2 linked regions of the Homo sapiens genome follow. The protein of the gene in region 2 purifies or fractionates together with the protein of the main gene of each other region. This does not show direct contact. Each region holds a gene or a part of one and is shown on either strand. Other genes may lie near its edges.

The links. Proteins that work in one complex are often made in the same cells at the same time.
Region 1: the proteins of RBBP4 (region 2) and CBX5 purify together in Homo sapiens (affinity purification with mass spectrometry; 6 studies listed by BioGRID and IntAct, with this or other methods). This does not show direct contact.

What each region holds. Positions count from the first base shown.
Region 1 is NC_000012.12:54,269,563-54,274,450, forward strand, and holds part of CBX5 (chromobox protein homolog 5), read right to left. Parts: intron 1-4,888. UniProt on the Homo sapiens protein: Component of heterochromatin that recognizes and binds histone H3 tails methylated at 'Lys-9' (H3K9me), leading to epigenetic repression. In contrast, it is excluded from chromatin when 'Tyr-41' of histone H3 is phosphorylated (H3Y41ph).
Region 2 is NC_000001.11:32,653,230-32,658,529, reverse strand, and holds part of RBBP4 (histone-binding protein RBBP4), read right to left. Parts: intron 1,104-5,300; coding exon 958-1,103; intron 1-957. UniProt on the Homo sapiens protein: Core histone-binding subunit that may target chromatin assembly factors, chromatin remodeling factors and histone deacetylases to their histone substrates in a manner that is regulated by nucleosomal DNA.

The DNA of each region.
Region 1 (4,888 bases), on a different chromosome or scaffold from region 2:
ATTTTTAGTAGAGACGGGGCTTCACCATGCTAGCCAGGCTGGTCTTGAACTCCTGACCTCGTGATCCACCCACCTCAGCCTCCCAAAGTGCTGGGATTACAGGCATGAGCCATCATGCTTGGCCTGGGCCTGGCGTTTTCTTTGTGGGATTATTTCTATCTAAAAATCCCTTTTCCTTAATAGAGATAGGGCTAGTAAGGTTCTGACGTTTTCTTCTTTTTGCCTGTAGAGAGGTCTCATTATGTTTCCTGGGCTGGTCTTGAACTCTTGGCCTCCCAAAATGTTGAGATTACATGTGTAAGCCTCCATGCCCACCCAAGGTTCTGTATTTAAGTGAGTTTTGGTAGTTTGTCTTCAAGGAAGTTACTAACTTCAACTAAGACATTGAATGTATTCGTATCGTTTTTCAAAATATTCCCTTATTATCTGTAGGATCAATAGTGATATTCCTTAGTTCCTAATATTGTTAATTAGTATCTTTTTTCCTGATTTATCAATTTTATTGATCTTTTCAAAGAACTTTCCGTTTTTTTCTATTCTCTATTGTTCTATATCCCATTAATTGCTGCTTTTATCATTACTATTTTCTTGTTTATTTTGGATTTAATTTGTTCTTTTTCTAGGTTCACAGGGCCAAACCTGTCAGTGACCTGCTTTTGTTGTTAAAGTACTTAATGCTATAAATTTCCCTTTAAGCACTTCCTTAACTGCATCCCACAATTTTGTTTTGTTTTTGAGATAGGGTCTCTGCCACCCAGGCTCAAGTGCAGTGGCAGGATCATAGCTCACTGCAGCCTTGATCTCCCAGGCTCCAGTAAGCATCCCACCTCAGCCTCCCAACTAGCTGGGACTACTGGCAAACCACCACTCCTGGATACTTTTTAATTTTTTCTAGAGACTAGGTCTCACTATGTTGCCCAGGCTGGTCTTGAACTCCTGAGCTCAAGTGATCCTCTCGCCTCAGCTTCTCAAAGCGTTGAGTTTACAGGAATCAGTCACAGCACCTAGCCTCATTCTAAAAGTTTTGATATATCATCTTTTCATTTTCATTCAGTTCCAAGTATTAGTTTTCTTTGTAATTTCCTCTTTGTAGGTGGGTTACTTAGAAGTGTGTTGTGTAATTTCAAAATATTTAGGGATTTTTCTTGATGTCTTTGTTACTGATTTTTTATTTAATTGCACTATGATCAGGAAATAAACATACCTTGGCCAAGCACAGTGGCTCATGCCTGTAATCCCAGCACTTTGGGAAGCTGAGATGAGAGGATCACTTGAGCCCAGGGGTCTGACACCAATCCGGGCAACATAACGAGACCCTGTCTCTACAAAAAAAGAAAAAAGGGTGGGTGGCTGAGCATGGTGGCACATGCCAGTGGTCCCAGCTTTTCAGAAGGCTGAGGCAGGAGGATCACTTGAGCCCAGGAGTTTCAGGCTGCAGTGAGTTGATTGTGTCACTGCACTCCAGCTTGGGTGACAGAACAAGACCCCGTTTAAATTTTTTTAAAAAACCTTTATGATTGAATCCTTTTGAATTTGAGACTTATTGACCCAGAAGGTAAACTGTCTGTGTAAAAGTTCCATGTGCACCTGAAAAGCACATGTATTCTGCTGTTGCTTGTACTATTCTATAAATGTCAATTATATCAGGTTGTTGGTAGTGTTGTTCAAGTCTTCCGTTTCCTTACTGATTTCATCTACCTGTTTTATCAATTACTGAGAGGCACTGAAATTTCCAAATATAATTGCAGATGTCTGTTATTTCCTTTTTCTTTTCTTTTTTTGAGACGGAGTCTTGCTCTGTCACCCAGGCTGGAGTGCAGTGGCGCGATCTCCGCTCACTGCAACCTCCACCTCCCAGGTTCAAGCGATTCTCCTGCCTCAGCCTCCCAAGTAGCTGGGATTACAGGCGCACGCCACCATGCCCAGATAATTTTTGTATTTTTAGTAGACAGGGTTTCACCATGTTGGCCAGGCTGATCTGGAACTCCTGACCTCAGGTAATCCACCCACCTCAGCCTCCCAAAGTGCTGGGATTACAGGCGTGAGCCACTGCACCTGGCTTGTTACTTCATTTCTGTTTTCCTTTGTGTATGTTGAAGCTTTATTATTAGCTTTTAGGACATTTAGGATTGTTATGTCCGCTTGATGAATTTATTCATTTATTATATAACCTGGTGTTTGTTATTTGCCCTATCTCATAAGTCTATTATGGAAAAACAATAGGAAAATACTTTGGAAAATATATAGGAAACAGAAGGAAAAATGTTTAATAATCAAGGAAGTTAAAAAAATTTTAATGAATTTTCTTTATTATCTGTAAGTCTTATCCATGCTTGTCTCTACTTACATAAATGAGGTTTGCTATGTTTTATCAGATCTTAGGCATAATTTATTGTTGTGAAACACTGAACAAATTAGCAGTATATTACCCTCCACAACTCCCTGTGAGGTGAGTTGCACAGATTTAGGGATGAGAAACGAGGCACAGAGAGTTCAAGGATTTGTCTTAAAAACAAAACTTAAGATTTCCCAGCCTGTTAGTTGACCTCTTTAGTACAGGGCATTTTATTCCGACATAATTATATTTTATTCTGACATAATTATGCCCTCTGGCTCAGATATGAACTTGCTTTATTCTAAGAAACATAGATTACTATCAGAAAAATACTTGAATCCAATTTGGTTTCTCCTCTCCACAGAAGAAATAAATAATGAGTGTGTTATAAAACCTGATCTTGAAACGGTCCTTTCAAGTACACCATCTCAAGCTCATGGCTTTATCTAGTGTCCTTCCTAGCAATGAAACAGGATGGAACAGGCATTCAGTGAGTCTGAAGAGTAAGACTGCAAGTGAAAATTTTTACTCTATGACCTAGTTTCAGGTAGAAAAAAATCTGTCAGTGTTTAATTTTGATGAACTACTACTACTGGAAAGAAAATTCAGGCTACACAGTCTATAGTCTCACTAAAAATGTAGTGAAAATGTTCCAGCTAGTCTATTACATCCCTTGTAGAAAATCTTTTCTTCAGAAAGGTTTAAGCACACAGCTAACAAATACAGGTTAGTTATCCTGTGTTAATACCCCAAGGAGTTGACAGTCAGCCAACAGCTCAGTCTTCCATCCTTCAAGTCCTAGGCAAGAACAGGACTACCCTCACCCAAAATGTTGTAATTTGTAATGTTTTGATTCACATTTTAAATTATTGACTTAAAAAACAAACTCCAAGATGACTTAGGAATCACTTCATAAAGTCTTAGGTCTAGAAGGCTTGTTAACGATCACTTATCCAACTCCTTCCCTATAAGATAAAGAAACTAAGGACTAAAGAGGGCAAATGGCTCACCCATGGTTACACCATTAGATAATGGCAGAGGCAGGACAAGAACCCAGGTTTCTGAGCCTTTTTTCACTTGCCTCTGTTTCTTTAAAAATAACATTTTCTTTTCTGAATTAGCTCAAATCTATTTGGGTAGAGGTTAGGGAACCAATGTGTAGTGGTCTGAATGATGGCCCTCCCCCAAAGAGATTCTTATCTTAATCCCTTGAACCTGTAAATGTTATTTTATATAGCAAAAGATGTGATTAAAAGATGAATCCGGCCGGGCGCGGTGACTTATGCCTGTAATCCCAGCACTTTGGGAGGCTGAGGCAGGCGGATCACCTGATGTCAAGGGTTCTAGACCAGCCTGGCAAACTGGTGAAATCCTGTCTCTATCAAAAATACATAAATTAGCCGGGCACGGTGGCAGGCACCTGTAATCCCAGCTACTCAGGAGGCTGAGGCAGGAGAATAGCTTGAACCTGGGAGGCGGAGGTTGCAGTGAGCCAAAATCACACCAATGCACTCCAGACTGGGTGACAAAGCGAGACTCTGTCTCAAAATAAACATGAATCTACATTTTTTTTTCAGGGACCTGCCACTTTAGGAATAAAATATATTTTAAATCTGCTCTCTCAGGTTGAATTAAAAGATAGGATTGGAGAAATTTATCCTGGTTCATCCAAGTGGTTTCTTAATTGCAATCATATGTATCCTTATAATACACAGGTAGAGGGAGAGTTCTGATGCAAGTACTCAAAAGAGAAGACAATGTGAAAACAGAACAGAGAGATATGCCAAGGAATGCTGACCATAATCAGAAGCTAAAAGAGGCAAAGAACAGTCTCTCTCCTAGAGCCTCCAGAGGGGCCTCAATATCTTGATTGCAGACTTCTGGGCTCCAAAATTTTGAGAAGAATAAATTCCTCTTGTTTTAAACCACCAAGTCTGTGGTAATTTGTTATAGCAGCCACAGGAAACTAATACATAGGGGGAATAAAATTTTAAACATCATAAAGTGGACATATATAAAACATTACTGATCCAAAAAGAATTGTGTTTCAGATAACCCAAAGAATGTCTAAAACCTTTAATCCCTCATTTCAAAGGGTAAATTGAGGCTACTGCAGGATACAATTTGCCCCAAAGAAATTGGCAGATCTGAGAAGAGAAACTCAGAAAGATCTAATATTTACATAGCTGCTAACAAGAACAGTGTAGGTTTTTCTGCAAACATGCTAGTTGGTAGAGCTCCTGGACAGACTAAACATAGGCAGCAGTTGTCACAGTGGGTGTTCTTCCAGCACAAGTGTAAAGCTGTCATCAGAAATGAATATGTGGCTTCGAGTGGCTTACAGAAATCCAACAAATCTGCATCTTGGACTCTGGACAAGCGAACTCTTCTCAGGATGACCTGGACTCCTTCCTATTAGTACAATGATCAGTTAAAATCATTCTCTATAAGCAAGGAAGAAAAATAAAAGTTTATATCAGGAGAAAAAGATGATTGCCCAGAGTCCGAGTTCACGAATAGCAGATATGTAAACAGCCATACTAAGTCAAGTGG
Region 2 (5,300 bases):
TGAGCAGTTAAACCCTTAGGTTATGGCCTAAAAACAGGATATAATTAAACAACTCATTGGAACTTAGTTTCTATACACATAGAGAGTGCCATGGTTAAGTCATTTCTACCACTTTAAACCTAGAAAGGGTAATTTAAGTTAGTGTTTCTCAACCTTTTTTTTTTTTTTACTATTGCTCCTCTAAGAACTCTTTTAAGAACTATTCCCTCCCCACCAGTCCCATGAAATTTTAATACCATAGATATCCTATGTCCTCTGTGCATATCTGTGCTTTAAACAATCAACCAGTAAGATTATTTACACCTACTCACATACACAAACCAATTTTCACCTCCTTAGGGGTAGTTATCTCCCGTGTTAAGAATGTATAGCAATATGGATGGGTGCAGTGGCTCACGCCTGTAATTCCAGCACTCTGAGAGGCTGAGGTGGGTGGATCACCTGAGGTCAGGAGTTCAAGACCAGCCTGGCCAACTTGGTGAAACCCTGTCTCCACTAAAAATACAAAAATTAACTAGGCGTGGTGGCGGGCGCCTGTAATCCCAGCTACTCAGGAGGATGAGGCAGAAGAATCGCTTGAACCCGGGAGGCGGAGGTTGCAGTGAGAGAAGATCGTGCCACTACACTCCAACCTAGGCAATAGAGCGAGACTGAGTAAAAAAATAAAAAATCAAGAATGTACAGCAATAATATATATTTTTGCTTCTTTCAATTGCAGAAATCCTCCCCACCAGCACCAGCTGAGAAAAGTTTATTGTGAAGGTACAGAACCAAGGATGTGTTAAGTATTTCTTCTGATACCTAAAACTCTAATATAAATATAAATACCTACCATTGCAAACTCAGGCTTTCCCTCAACCTTAAATATTGTTTCTAAAGTCAGAGTTTACTTTATCAAAGTGCACATAACAGATATGACCCACACATCTTTACTTCTTTCACCTTTAAGATTCCTACCTCCTTTCTCACTGTCGTAGTGTGACGCATCAAACTGAGCATCATCATTAGGGAGCTGCACACTGGCTATAACAAGATGGTTTTGTTCATCCGATGTGTGTGTCCCCAGGACAAGTCGATGAATGCTGAAATCTTTCCCTTCTGGTCTGTAACGGCAATATATAGTCACTGTTCAAATTAGTAACATCAGGAGACGGCGAAGTCAACAATATACATGTATGTCAAAGTCACTAATACAACCAGGTTTTAAGAGAGGGGAAAAAGTCATTAAGGGTCTTTTCTTTCTTTCTTTTTTTATAAATAGAGTCTCACTCTTTCGCCCAGGCTAGAATGGAGTGGTGCGATCTTGGCTCACTGCAACCTCTGGCTCTCGGATTCAAGCGATTCTCATGCCTCAGCCTCCCGAGTAGCTGGGACTACAAGAACCTGCCACCATGCCTGGCTGATTTTCGTATTTTTAGTAGAGACGGGATTTCACCATGTTGGCCAGGCTGGTCTCGAACGCCTGGCCTCAAATTATCCACCCACCTCAGCCTCCCAACGTGCAGAGATTACAGGCAAGAGCCACCGTGCCTGGCCAAGAGCCATATTTTCTACTTAATTACTCTGGAGAAAAAGTAAAACGTTTTATGGAATAAAATGTGAATTAACTACTCACTCACTACCAACAGGTTGGAGGGAAAGCAAACCATTGTTGGGTATGCTAATAATTTTGCTTACTAAAACTTTCATTAAAAAGGAAAGAAGGGGAAAGGGTGCAAAGAAATTGAAAAGAATGAAAAAAGGGAAAGAAGAGTAAATAACATAAACCAATTTTTCAAACATTTACTAACCGCCTATCAATGGACACATCGCTCCAAACGCGATGGAAGTACAAAGACAATTAAGACATGATTCCTGACCTCAAAAAACCTGCAGCTGGGCCAGGCATGGTGGCTCACACCTGTAATCCCAGCACTTTGGGAGGCCGAAGAGGGTGGATTAATTGAGGTCAGGAATTCGAGACCAGCCTGACCAACATGATGAAACCCGGTCTCTACTAAAAATACAAAAATTAGCCGGGTGTGGTGGCGGTGCCTGTAGTCCTAGCTACTCAGGAGGCTGCGACAGGAGAACTGCTTGAACCCAGGAGGCAGAGGTTGCAGTGAGCCAAGACGGTGCCACTGCACTCCAGCCTGGGCGAAAGAGCAAGACTCTGTCTCAAAAAACAAACAAAACAAAAAAAACCGGCGGCTGGCTAATCCCAGCTACTTGGGAGGCTGAGGCACAAGAATCGCTTGAACCCGAAAGGCGGAGGCTGCAGTGAGCAGAGATCGTGTTACTGCACTCCAGCCTGGGTGACAGAGAAAGACTACTTCCTGTCTCAAAAAAGAAAAAAATAAATAAAAGAAAGAAAATTAAACAATTTGCCTAAGATCACACAGCTACTAAGTAACAAGTATGCTGAAGTCCAAATCTGACTTCTGATATGGGAAAGCACAGTGGGAGAGAAGGCCGATTAAAACTGACTATTTAGTGTTCTGAATGCCGTCTTAAGGCATTCTGTACTCCATACTGGGTCAAGGGCATCCACATCATCTGGGAACTTGTTAGAAACGCAAATTCTCACATCTACTCCAGACCCATTGAATCAGAAACTCTAGAAGGTGGGGCACAACTAACTGTTTCACAGTACCTCCAGCTGATTATGATGCATATAAAATTTTGAGAACCCCTGGCCTAGATGGGAAAGATGCTACACAACCAGAATTCATTGGGGTTTATAAATTGACTGCCTATAAAATGGAGAAAGAGAAAATGTCAAACTAAAGCCAATTATGATGAAAAGAAATAGGAACAACAGGAGAGAAAGTTGGGGTAAGGCCTTCACGTAAGGAATAATTCCATTTACAACATGTCAAACTGGGGAAGCCAGTAAGATATACCAGGGAAGACACGGGCAGGCAGAAGAAAAATCAGGAAAAGCTCTGGAGAAGTGAGGTCTAAAGATATCAATAGGAATTCTTCTGCACAGATGTCACAGGCAAAGCTCTGAGAGCTTCTACATTACACTGAAAAGAAATGAAGAGAGATATGAACAGAAAATTGGAATTACCTGTATGTAGAAGGTTAGACAAGAACCAGAAAAAGAATGAAGGAGAGGACAGTGTTACAGAACTACAACCGTGGTTTTTCTTTCTTTTTAAAGGGGGGAAACGGATCTGGGTAAACACCAGAAAAAGAACACACACAAAAGTAAACACTGCATCAGGGCTGCTTGCTTGTAAGTAATCCTCATCTTAAAAAACAAAAACAGGGCCAGGCACGGTGGCTCATGTCTGTAATCCCAGCACTTTGGGAGGTCAAAGTGGGAGGATCACTGGAGCCCAGAAGTTAAAGAACAGTCTGGACAACATAGCAAAAAAATTTTTCAAAAATTAGCCAGGTATGGTAGCGTGTGCCTGTAGCCCCAACTATTCCAGAGGCTGAGGCAGGAGGATTCCTTGGCCCAGGAGGTCAAGGCTGCAGGGAACTCTGATCGTGCCACTGCAACACAGTCTGGGCAACAAAGCAAGATCCTGTCTCAAAAACAATTTTCAGCCAGGTGCACTAGCTCACGCCTGTAATCCCAGCACTTTGGGAGGCCGAAGCGGGTGGATTACCTGAGGTCAGGAGTTCAAGACCAGCCTGGACAACATGGTGAAACCCCATCTCTACTAAAAATACAAAAAATTAGCTGGGCGTGGTGGCGGGTGCCTGTAATCCCAGCTACTTGGGAGGCTGGGGCAGGAGAATCGATTGAACCCAGGAGGCGGAGGTTGCAGTGAGCTCAGATCATGCCACTGCACTCCAGTATGAGTAACAAGAGTGAAACTCCGTCCTCCGTCTCAAAACAACAACAACAACAAAAAACAATTCTCACATTATTTATCTAGATTTGCTAATGCAGAAAACTACTAAGATGACAGTACAGATTTCAGCCTTGGGGAATTAAGTCTTTAATTCTTGCTTTCGAAACCTAGCTAGTCATTCTATTATATTACTTGGGAAGTTTCTGAAAAGTAGGGGTTCTAGAATGTTTAGTAGGTATGGGATGGCCAATATTTGTGATCCACTAGTCCAATAAGCACAATTTAGCATATGACTATAGTAAATGTGGAATCACCATTCCAGTACACTTCTCATTAAGTACTCTGCCACAAGTTCTTTTTCTTTGAGACAGGGTGGCAATCCCTAGCTCAGGCTGGAGTGCAGTAGCAGGATCACAGCTCAATGCAGCCTTGACCTCCCAAGGCTCAGGTGATCCTCCTGCCTCAGCCCCCACTGAGGAGCTGGGACTAACAGGTACGCACCACCATGCCCGGATAATATTTGTAATTTTAGTAGAGACGGGCTTTTCACCATGTTGCCCAGGCTGGTCTGGAACTCCTGGCCTCAAGCAATCTGCCTGCCTCAGCCTCCCAAAGTGCTGGGATTACACGTGTGAGCCACCATGACCAGCCCATAAGTTCCTAAATGGTTTGAATTACCACTGAAAACTCTTGACAGAAATGATTCCAATTATCCTGAATTCCCCAAGCAATTCTGATGATCAATTGCATGTGGGAACTCCTGGTCATGATAAAGAAGCTTCTAGGCCGGGCGCGGTGGCTCACGCCTGTAATCCCAGCACTTTGGAAGGCCGAGGCGGGTGGATCATGAGGTCAGGAGATTGAGACCATCCTGGCTAACACGGTGAAACCCCGGCTCTACTAAAAATACAAAAAATTAGCCAGGGGTAGTGGCCGGCACCTGTAGTCCCAGCTACTTGGGAAGCTGAGGCAGGAAAATGGCGTGAACCCGGGAGGCGGAGCTTGCAGTCAGCGGAGATCACGTGACTGCACTCCAGCCTGGGCAAGAGAGGAGACTCCGTCTCAAAAAAAAAAACAAAAACAAAAAAAAAAAAAAAAAAAAAACCAGAAAACAAAAAACACACAAAGCAGCTTCTAACTCCCAATTTCTAGGTTTTTACTATGGTTTTGTGTAACATCCCTAGGACACATTTCCCTATTTTTCCTTATGCCACTGTAAAGGTAGCAGCCTCATTCTTAAGTTACTAGTATAATTTCTGCCAAATTTCTATCATTTGTTGAGCTACATCATAGTCTAATAACATTTTGCAATTATCTTAACTTTTAAAGATCCAAGTTTTGAAGGAATTTACTTAGCATACAATCGCTTTTGAATGTAATTCAGAAAACTTACTTTTGTACCAGAAAATCCATTATTCCAAATGGCACAATGGTCTTGTTAAAACTATGTTAATATCATCTAAATTTACCCTCCTCTTTGTTTTTTGCATTGTCATTTCTTCCTAAGAAATG